2 separate regions of the Homo sapiens genome follow, and region 2 is linked to region 1. A link means that fine-mapping ties the variant in region 1 to the expression of a gene that starts in the linked region. Tissue or cell type: whole blood. Region 1 holds a variant in brackets; the other region holds the start of a gene. All regions are shown on one strand. Distances are from middle to middle.

Region 1 (5,148 bases):
ACTGCCACCTTAAAAATGAGAAACACAGGCTAACACACAAGGAGTCACAGCTCACAGGGAAGAGAAGCTACTGGGGACAGCAAGTGGGAGGAGCACTTAAATGGTATTGACAGATTACTAGAAGCTGAGGGTAGCCTGGCTAGAACATTAAAAACTCCTTGAAGACCAGACTAAGGGGGAATCTCACACATTTCCAAGTGTTACTACAATGATCTCAACCAGGTTCTCATGATGAAGTTCAGAAAAACTCCCTGAGGTTTGGCACTACCAACTTCAGGACTTACATTAAGCTACAGTAACCCAAATAGTGTGAAGTTGGTGAAAAGAGAAAACACACACATATAGATGCATAGAAAAGAATACGGAGCCCAGAAGCAGGCCTACATACAGTCCACTGATCTTCCATGGAGGTTTAGAGACAATTTAAAGCAGCAAAGATAGCCTTTCCAACTAGTGGTGCTAGAACAGCTGGACAACCACATGCAAAAAAATAAATAAATCCAGGTATGCATGTTATATACCCTTTATAAAATAAATCTTACACGTAAATGTAAGGTGCAAAACCATAAGAATCCTAAGAGATAAAATAGGAGAAAATCTGAGGGATCCTGGGTTCAATGATGGCTTCTTAGATACAAAACCAAAAGCACAATCTACTAATGAAAAAAAATTAAGTTGAGCCTCATTAAAATTAAAAACTTCTGTTGTGTGAAAGACACTGTTAAGAGAATGGAAAAAGCAAGTCACAGACTGGGAGAAAATATTTACAAAATAATCTGATGGAAAAACTGCTGTCCAAAATATATGAAGAATTCTGAGAACTAAACAACACAAAGCAAAAAAAAAAAAAAAAAAGGTGAAAGATCTGAACACCTCATTAATAAGATATACAGATGGCAAATAAGCATATGAGAAAGATGCTCAAAATCATTTGTTGTGAGGGAATTGCACATTAAAACGAGATATCACTGTAAACCTATCAGAATGGCTAAAACACAAAACGGTGAACACACCAAATGCTGTCGAAGATGAGGAACAACCAGAACTCTCCATAGCTAGTGGAAATCAAAAGTGTACAGTCACTTTGGAAAACTTAAGTTCATTCAAAATCCTGCACATAAGTACTTGCAGCAATTTTATCATAATTGTCAAAACTTGGAAGTACCCAAGACATCTTTCACCAAGTGAATGAATAAACAAACTGTGTTGTAGCCATACAATGAAATCTGATTCAGTGATTTTACAAAACAAGCTGTCAAGTCATGAAAAGACGTGGAGGAACTTAAAAGTACACAATGCTAGAAAGAAGCCAGTCTGGAAACCTACATACTGTAATTCCAACTCTAGGACATTCTTGGAAAGTCAAAAAGATAGAAGTAGTAAAATGATGAGTGGTTGTCAGGGGTGGAGGAGAGGAGGAGGCACGAAATGGTGAAGTACAGGGAATTTTCAGCAGTGAAACTATTTTGCATGATGCTGTATTGGGGATTTAGGACATTACATAATTGCCAAAACCCATAATCTGTGAAACTCAAAGAATGAACTCTAGTGTAAACTATGGACTTTAGTTGATAATGATGTATCAATAGTGGTTCATCAATTGTAATGAATGGACCACACTAATACAACATACTAATAGGGGAAACTGTGTGCTGGAGGACAGGGGAGCCTAGGAGAACTCTCTGTACTATCCACTCCATTTTTCTGTAAACCTAGAACTTTTCTAAAAAATAACATCTATTACTTTTTTTTAATTAGGATGCAGCAGCCCCATACCAAGGTTTTGGTGGCATCCTGTTATTGTGTGGTTAGTACTTGGCATTGAAGTGCACCAACCTGGAGTCAGAGCAGTTGGAGATTTCAATGCCTGTGCCATTTACCTCTAACCCTGGGGTGCCCCCAGAACACAGATAGCAGATCAGTTAGGCAGAAGCAGCCTCAGTCATCTAGACAGTGCAGGGTTCTGGTAAGGACAGGTGCAAACCATCTAGGTGGGCAGAACTTGGTGATGACTAGGAACCACTGAGACTCAGCAGCTGCCCCAGTGGCACCCACAAATCAGAGGAGGAGGAGGCTGGGAGGACCTAAGGGCTACAGGACGAGCTCCCTGCCTACAAGACAGAAGCAGCTCCAGAGGTTTTGGTAAGTAATGTAGATTTCAGTGCAGTGTGGTCTATTTAAAAAA[G/A]TAGAACAAAAAGGAAAGAAAAAGAGAGAGCATGAGAGACAAAGAAAAAGAAAAGAAGAAAGGAAGAAAGGAAAGAATGGAGGGAGGGAAGGAAGGAGGAAGGGAGGAAGGAAGGAAGGAAGGGAGGGAGGGAGGAAGGCAGGGAGAGAGGGAGGAAGGGAGGAAGAAAGGAAGGGAGGGAAGGCAGAAGGGAAGGAGGGAGGGAAAGAATAAAGAGAGAGAGAAAAAGAGTGGGAGAGAAGTAGGGAGGGGAGAGAAGTAGGGAAGGAAGGAAGGAAGGAAATGAACAAACTTACATGAAGATGAGAACATCCAGGGGAACTTACACCACCAGTATTTTCCATTAACAGGAACACGCTAACTAGTTATTGGAGACAGACGCACTACTGTAAAACTATATACTGTTTCCATGGGGTACAACCCCTTCTTCCTTCTCTGAAACACATTATTCCTCTGGCCCACTGTTGCCAGAGACACTGAGTCTTGTCTTTGGATAAGTTCTGGTGCCCAAAAGAATGAGATGAGACAGTGGATCCCAGAACACCAGGCCGCAACCTTCCCTGCTGCTCCTTGTCCACTCCAGAAGCTGCCCAGCTGCAGGTGGGGACCTCAGCCCCTGGGTCTGACATCGTCCATTTGTCATTCTCACTGGACTTCCCTCCTTGCACTGGCTCCCACTCCCCCAGGACCTGGTGGACGGCCACGTGAGAAGGATACAAACAGGCCATGCCCCTTTCTTTCTCCCCCTCTCAATGCCTGCAGTGGTGGGTTCCATGGGGTAGTGACCTGAGATTTACTCGTTATGGGGTCTCTAGCCCAGAGCAGGGCATGGTGCCTAATAGTCACCCCATGAATGCTCAGTGAAAGAAGACATCCACCACAAGGTCCTGGGGAACCAAGAATTCCACTGTGGCCCATAAATTCTAAGTCCTACAGGATTCTGGAATGGGAGATGGGAACGGCCTTCAAAAGTGGCCTCTCTTTTAACCCATTATACTGGCAACTGAGCCATGTTTCCCCATCCTGGACACATCTAGAGGGCACTGCCTAAAACCACACACATCTCCCCACCCAGGACAGTGCAGGGCCTTAGCCTGGGGGATGCGGGTGGACAGGGAGGGGGTGAGCCATGAAAGCTGAAGAGAAGAAAGCAGGTGAAAGGGGACGGCAGGGTGGAAACAAGAGACGGAAATGGGGGCAGAGAATGGGGGGTAAGAGGGGAAGAGCAAGGAGTGGGATGTAGATCTAGCTACTAAGGAAAAGTCCTGGAGAGAACACTGTCCTCTCCTGAAGTAAAATCACTTCCACCTGACAACAGCACTGCAGGTCGAGGGTGGCACACGCTGTGAATATTTGTTCATTCACTTAACAAATATTAATTCAGTATCTGTTTCATGCCAGGCAAGGCCCTGCGATGTTTAGGGCCCTTGGCATCTTCCCTTCACATCTGAGTCATAATAGAAAAAGGACTCTCTGACTCCATCGAGCTGGCAATGCCTCAGGGTTTTTACCTGTGGGATCTGGCAGCTCTTCATTCGGCCCACACCGTGTGAGGTTGCTCTTGGTGCACCGAATGGGGAAGTTTCTACATCAGTACCTCGGAGAGTCCACTGGAAGCCCTGGACAGTGGGAGTTGGTGGCACCCCCAGCGTGGAGGCCAAGAACACACAGCACTGAAGCTCCAGGACACCCTCAGGAGGACGGTAAGGGACGGTAAGGTGAGAGCCTGGGTCACCAGGAACCTTCGCCTGCATCTAAACAGGATTTGCTTTCAGATTGCCTATGAGATAAAAGAGAGAAATCATGGTTAATATTGAGATTTGGGGCTTCGGCAACTTGAAGGATGGAGCTGCCGTTTACGGAGACTGGGAAGACCCAGGGAGGAGCAGGTTGAAAGGTGGTGGGGAACTAGAATTGTTTGGGTTCCTGTCATATGTAATCAACAGTCCTCACCAGCCTCGGCAACATAGTAAGACCCCATCTCTGAAAATAAAAAATGAAAAATTGGCCCAGCATGGTGGCACACACTTGTAGTCTCAGCTACTCTGAAGGTTGAGGCAGGAGGATTCCTTGAGCCTCGAATTAGAGGTTAGTGAGCTATGATGGCACCACTGAACTCCAGCCTGGGGGAAAAAAAAATAAAGAGTCCTGACTAAATACTTGAGTAGCCAGGGAAGTTTTCACCAAGTAATACTTGAGGCAGATCTTAGTGAACAAGAATTCGATTCTTTCTGTTAGGGAATTAAGAGTGTGTGGGTGTAGTTAATGCTTCTTTGGAATCTCATCTACTGGTCTATCTGGTCTATCTGTACACGTATATTCTACAGGCTGTCTCGCTGAGCTTTCGCTAGGTTATGCTACAGTAACAAAAGCCCCAAAATCTTAGCAGCAACACATACAAAGGTTTACTTTTCATTGACATTTCCTTTTATGTCAGGTTGACTGTGACTCTGCTGTATACAAGCTATTTTATTTGTTAGATGGTGAAAACTGTGACACTTGGAGATTGTTGAATATGGTATTAGTATGTTCATTCATTCATTCATTTAACAAATATTTATTCAATATCTGTTTCATGCCAGGCAAGGTCAAGTACTGAGAATACAGTGGTGAATAAGAGACAAAATCTCAAATTTCCAGGAGCTTATGTTGAAAATGAGATTGAACACATACAAAATAATCATAATAACAACAATGAATACTATATTCATAAATAATAGCTGTAAGAGATTTTAGTAAATCTTTTAAATTAGAAAAACATAAAAATTATTAAAACTAAAATGGCCAGCGGTGATGGCTTATGCCTGTAATCCCAACACTTTGAGATGCCAAGGTGGGAGGGTCATTTGAGCCCAGGAGTTTGAAACCAGTCTGGGCACTACAGGAAAACCCTATCTACAAAAAATAGAAAATTAGCCGGGCATAGTGGTGCATGCCTGTAGAACCAGCTACTAAGGAAGCTG
Region 2 (5,148 bases), 710 kb after region 1:
GCCAAGAGTTTTCAGCGCCTTTAAAATGTTCTCCAAGTTTCAGCACCAGACTCCCAGCATCCACCCAGCTGATTCCTGACTTCATGGAACAACCCCTCATTATGGATGAGGCCTCCCATTCCTCTCAATTCTGCCCTCATCCCTCCCTATCCCCACCCCCTCACTGGGGTATCAGGTTTCTAATTTCCTTTAGAGAGGTGAAAGCACTTGATTGCCACCCTCTTCCCAACCTGGTGCTCTGGTGGAGGTGAGAGTCAGAGGCTGTTCTGCAGGACACCCCACTGCCTTTCCTGGTTGTTCCCCAGAGCCACTGATACAATTTCACACAAGAAAGGAGGTGACAGATGTGAGGAGCCTGCCACCCGTCCAATCCTACTCAAGTCCTAAGCCCTTGCCCACCAATTCTGTGCATGATGATTGGACCTTTCTCTGGCTTTTCCAGAAGGGGAACACGCAAAGGTTAGGGAGCTGGATGGTCTAATTCGGGGCTATGCTCTTGTGTCATCTGCTCAACTGTCTCCTGCGTATTAGCCATGCTCCCTAACCAGCTTACAAACTTCTTGAAGGCAGGGACCAAATTCTTCTGAGTACAGGGCAGAGCTGGATACTTGGATATAGTGTCATGCCATGGTGACAAGATCCACGCCAGCAGATACAAAGGCAGACAAAGTGAGCGAGGCAGTTTCCAGGACCACGTGGTTGTGGCACAACTAAAGCAACAACAGCAGCCTCTGCGGTCTAAGGGGTCCTCGGAGGAGGAGACGGCTGAAGGTGGTGGACAGGGCTGAGGCGGGCAGAAGGCGGTTGTGCGATTTGGAGGGTGGGGGAGAATATACTGGATCAGGTGAGGTAGAGACTGGGCAGCTGGGTCGACTACAGAGGTCGAAAGTGCAGGCACTGGAGTGAAGAGTTCACAAAATAAATATTCCGGACAAGGCCACCAGGCCCAGCAGGCCTTTTCAAACACGGTGGATAAAGATTTGAAGTAGATTAATTATATATCACAACAAAAGGAGATAAAAATTTGCTAAGACTATAAATCATCTGGGAGCGTTTGGGATCGGATTCTAGTCGAGTCTGGTCACTCCCAACCAGCGATAAACCAAAGGTGGGGAGGAGGCTAAATCTGGACCCCAGCGCTCCCCGCCCGCCTCCCTTTCCTCCGAAGGCTCCCAGGAGGCAGAGGGGCGGCGAAAGCACGGAGCAGTCTTGCATCAGACGAGGGGCGGGTACGTGTTTGCTGCCTTACGAGGGCTGCCTTCCCCTCCAGCTGCCCCAGCAGCCACCAGACTGGTTGGGTCTCCGCCAGCTTCCCCCCGCCCCCCGACCCCCCCAACCCCGCCACCGCCAAGGCAGGCTAGAATCGGCGGGGCGGCCCAGAACTTGGTTGGGAAGAATCGCCAGTCCCTGGGTTCCCCGCAAAGAAGCCACTTTGGGGCCCCTCTCCCGATCGCCCCGCGCGGAGGCGGTTGGGGGTTGGGGGAGAGGCGGCGCGAGGCTGCCAGAACAATTGCGCGCTAAGGCGCTGGGGCGCCGCGCTGGCATCCCGCGCTGGCATCCGCGAGCAGCCTGCAGGACCAGTTGGAGCAGCCCGCACTTTGCAATGCTAGCGGAGGCATGCCAACGTGAAAGACGCGGTTGCAAACTAAAAGAAAAGTTTGCATCTCGCCGCCGTTTGTTCTTCCCTCTTTCTGCCTCCTCCCGCCCCCGTTCTTCTCTACCCCCCAATCTCAGGAGGCCCCGGAACTAATTGATACGGGGTGCATGCGAGGGGGGCGCGCTGGCCTGGGCGCAGCCAGCCTTTTTCCATGGAGGTTGCCCTAGAGACCTCAATTTTCTCTCTCTCGCCTTACCTGCAGCTCCGCTATCAGCTCCTCTTTGCTAAGGTTCTGCTTTTCCACCACCTGCAGCCCTCCATCTTGCAAGATCTTCCGGCAGCAAGGGTCCAGGCTGTCACTGATGAGCACTTTCCGCAGATTTGCAAAAGCCATTGCTGGAGTTGGCCTCGGAATCGGCCGCTGTGAGTAGAAGTACCTAAGCCAAGAAGCTGCGGTTCGGCCTGGCGCGCTAGAGTAACTGGGCAGTATTCTCCAGCTCCCGCTCCCCAGTCATCTCCTCCTCCTCCTCCTCTTACAGTCTCCTTTTGATTGGACGGAAATACTCAAACTCTCCGCGACTCCGCCTCCTCCTCGCGGCTCTGAGGTTGCCAAATCCCTGCCCGCTTTATTATCCTCCCGCGATGAATTTCTCCATCTCAGCCAAAGCTCTTACCTACACCTGGTGAGCATATAAAAAGCACAATTTACGCTGACTAGCTGATGCATATCTGAAATGAACGGAGAAATACACCTCATCCTGAGAGAAAAACTTCATTTTCACTTTTCCTCCTAAGGATTCATTTATTAATTCCTTACGAAATTTTTTTTGAGTGGGTAAATGTGCAAGGCACTGTGCTAGACGTTGAAGGGAATTCGACTATCAAAAAGAAAATGTCCAACAATGATAGACTGGATTAAGAAAATATGGCACATATACACCATGGAATACTATGCAGCCATAAAAAATGATGAGTTCATGTCCTTTGTAGGGACATGGATGAAATTGGAAATCATCATTCTCAGTAAACTATCGCAAGAACAAAAAACCAAACACCGCATATTCTCACTCATAGGTGGGAATTGAACAATGAGAACACATGGACACAGGAAGGGGAACATCACACTCTGGGGACTGTTGTGGGGTGGGGGGAGGGGGGGAGGGATAGCATTAGGAGATATACCTAATGCTAAATGACGAGTTAATGGGTGCAGCACACCAGCATGGCACATGTATACATATGTAACTAACCTGCGCATTGTGCACATGTACCCTAAAACTTAAAGTATAAAAAAAAAAAAGATACATCCTCTTTCCTCTGGTGGCCTAACATCCTAGAGTACCAAACACACAGACTTGGAAAGTTACGTAGTGAAAAGCAATAGGAAGCTTTCTGAGACACCAAGGAGCTGTGATTAATTTCAAATTAGTGATGCAATGAGAATTATGAGTTTATAAAAGAGCGGGGACCTGGTGCATTTAAACTAGGCATACTTTGTTAAAGTTATTTATTTCCTTTCCCTCCACTTCCTCTCTAATTATGAAAAAGAAGAAAAGGAAAACGGGATGTCAGTGTGGTTTAATTGACCAAGGAGGCACTTCTCAGCTCTTAACTCTTTTATATTTAAACCCCATAACCGACGTGCTCTCTCATGCCCCATTTTACAGAAATGTCAGAAAATTCAATTTGGGATTAAAGTCACCTAGAATCAGAAGCAGAATCAGAGATGCTCATAGTTGAATTAGAATTCAGCTTTATGGACATATCCAGTCCAACTAACCATTGTGTGTTATGTCATCCTGAGCTATTCATAACTCAAGTGCTAGATCCTTATCCTACAGAACTATGCAATATCAATTCTATAAAGTAATGAAAATTCTATACAGATAATTCCTGGGCACAAATCAGATTTTTAGACACAATGTCCTCAGTGGGTAAAAAAAAAAATTGTCTATCATGTTTGCTTGTTCGGATGAATTGTTATTCCTACATTCCAAGACTCATGAGTATTCAAATTCTCTGTCTCTCTTGAAGTGCCCAGCAGTACCCTGGAGTCTAGGGACAGACAGGGGACCTATCCCAGGAGGCTTAATGGAGGGTCTTGGGAAGCATCCATTTTTGTAACTGCTTTCCTTCAACTCCTCCCAGGGCTCACTAACTGCTTCCTTTCAGTGTAGAATCTAAACCCTGCTATCATTAACATGTAATCCCACCCTTTCACACCAAGTCAAACTTCTTGGATACTGTCTGAACGCACAACCCAGAGGGCCTCCTAAGCCTGATCACCTGTTTTCTTTATTTATTATTTATGACCCACCTACTTTTTAAACAGATCCAAGCCACACAATAAAAGACACTTCTAAACCGTTAAGAAAATAATTAACAGATTAAGAGTCCATTTCCAAGTGAAAAGGAGGGTGTGTGATAATTGTTACATAAGTCAGAAATGTTCCCTCCTTTTAAATTTCTATAGAATTAACTTCAAGTTATCTCACAGTGCCTTAAGCAATATATTTATGAACTTTTCATGTCTTGTTCCCCATGAACTCTCATTTCCTTAAATCAGAGACACGATTTTGTATACCCCCAGTAGTGCCTAGCACCATGCCTTCCACATCACAGAGGCTCAGAAGAGGTTTGATTCAAAAATTAATTTATCCAGTACCTCCTATGGGCTAGGCCCTGTGACACATAAGACACAGCCTTCTTTCCTCAAAAAGAAAAAAGAACAACATTTTAAGAAGAGTACCCCGGCATGGTGGCACATTGCTGTAGTCCTATCTACTTGGGAGGCTGAGGCAGGAGGATTGCTTGAGCCCAGGAGTTCGAGGCTGCAGTGAACCATGATTGTGCCACTGCACTCCAACCTGGGCAACAGAGTGAGACCTGTCTCTAAAAAATAATAAAAAAAATTAAAAAGGTATAGTTTAAGAATTATAAATAAAGGTGTGCTGGAGGGCTTTGGGAGCAAGGAGGAGAACCATCTCCTGAGGTGCCAGGAGGATTTCCAAGCAAGGTTGCCTTTCAGCTAACCTTTTGAAACTCATTCAAGGCAGCTACTTTGAGAGGCTCAAGGATACAGAGATAGGTAAAACATAACCTGCCTTGAAGCTGCTCATGGTTAACTGCCTAATCTTGAGAGCTGAATATGAATTAGCCGGGGGAGAAGAAATGACATTTCCAAAGGCTTAGAGTTGTGAGGAGTTGCAACATGTTCATGGCTTCTCTACCATGGCTGTGGGGGATGCCAGTGGGATACCAGGAGGTGAGACTGCAGAGGGGCCAGGGGCTGCTCATGAAGTGTCTTGCCCTGAGGAGGAGTTTAAACTTGACTCCAAAGTTAGTACAGAGGTACCGAGTGATTTTTAGAAGCGATATCATCAAATGTGTTGCTGGTCGGGCTGAGACCTGATACTGCCAATACAGATATATCCCTCACCACTACACCCCAGAATCTCCAACATCAATTGCAAACTAAGGGTTTTTCTTTGATAACTGAGGGTTGGAGTTGGGGAAATTTCTCCCTCTCCCTGTGTTATTGCATCCATCCA

Evidence for each region. PIP is the estimated chance that this variant, and not a neighbour inherited with it, causes the effect.
Region 2: PHGDH starts here. The variant in region 1 is the best candidate, but not a certain one, in a credible set for the expression of PHGDH in whole blood (TOPMed, PIP 0.53).

What each region holds. Positions count from the first base shown.
Region 1 is chr1:120,418,667-120,423,814 of GRCh38, reverse strand. It overlaps NBPF8 (NBPF member 8), which reads right to left. Exons shown (of 23, transcript NM_001037501.5): 2 at 3,697-3,965. Among named protein-coding and RNA genes, the nearest start is that of NBPF8, 6.2 kb to the right of the region's middle. The variant G/A (reference allele first, on the strand shown) is at 2,186.
Region 2 is chr1:119,708,866-119,714,013 of GRCh38, reverse strand. PHGDH (phosphoglycerate dehydrogenase) reads right to left here and starts at 2,080. Exons shown (of 12, transcript NM_006623.4): 1 at 1,854-2,080. The coding sequence starts at 1,991. It overlaps LOC105378937 (a long non-coding RNA gene), which reads left to right and starts at 2,168. Exons shown (of 3, transcript XR_947757.4): 1 at 2,168-2,280. RefSeq lists a silencer at 1,428-1,527 and enhancers at 1,668-1,757, 1,808-2,087, 2,228-2,277, 1,759-2,288.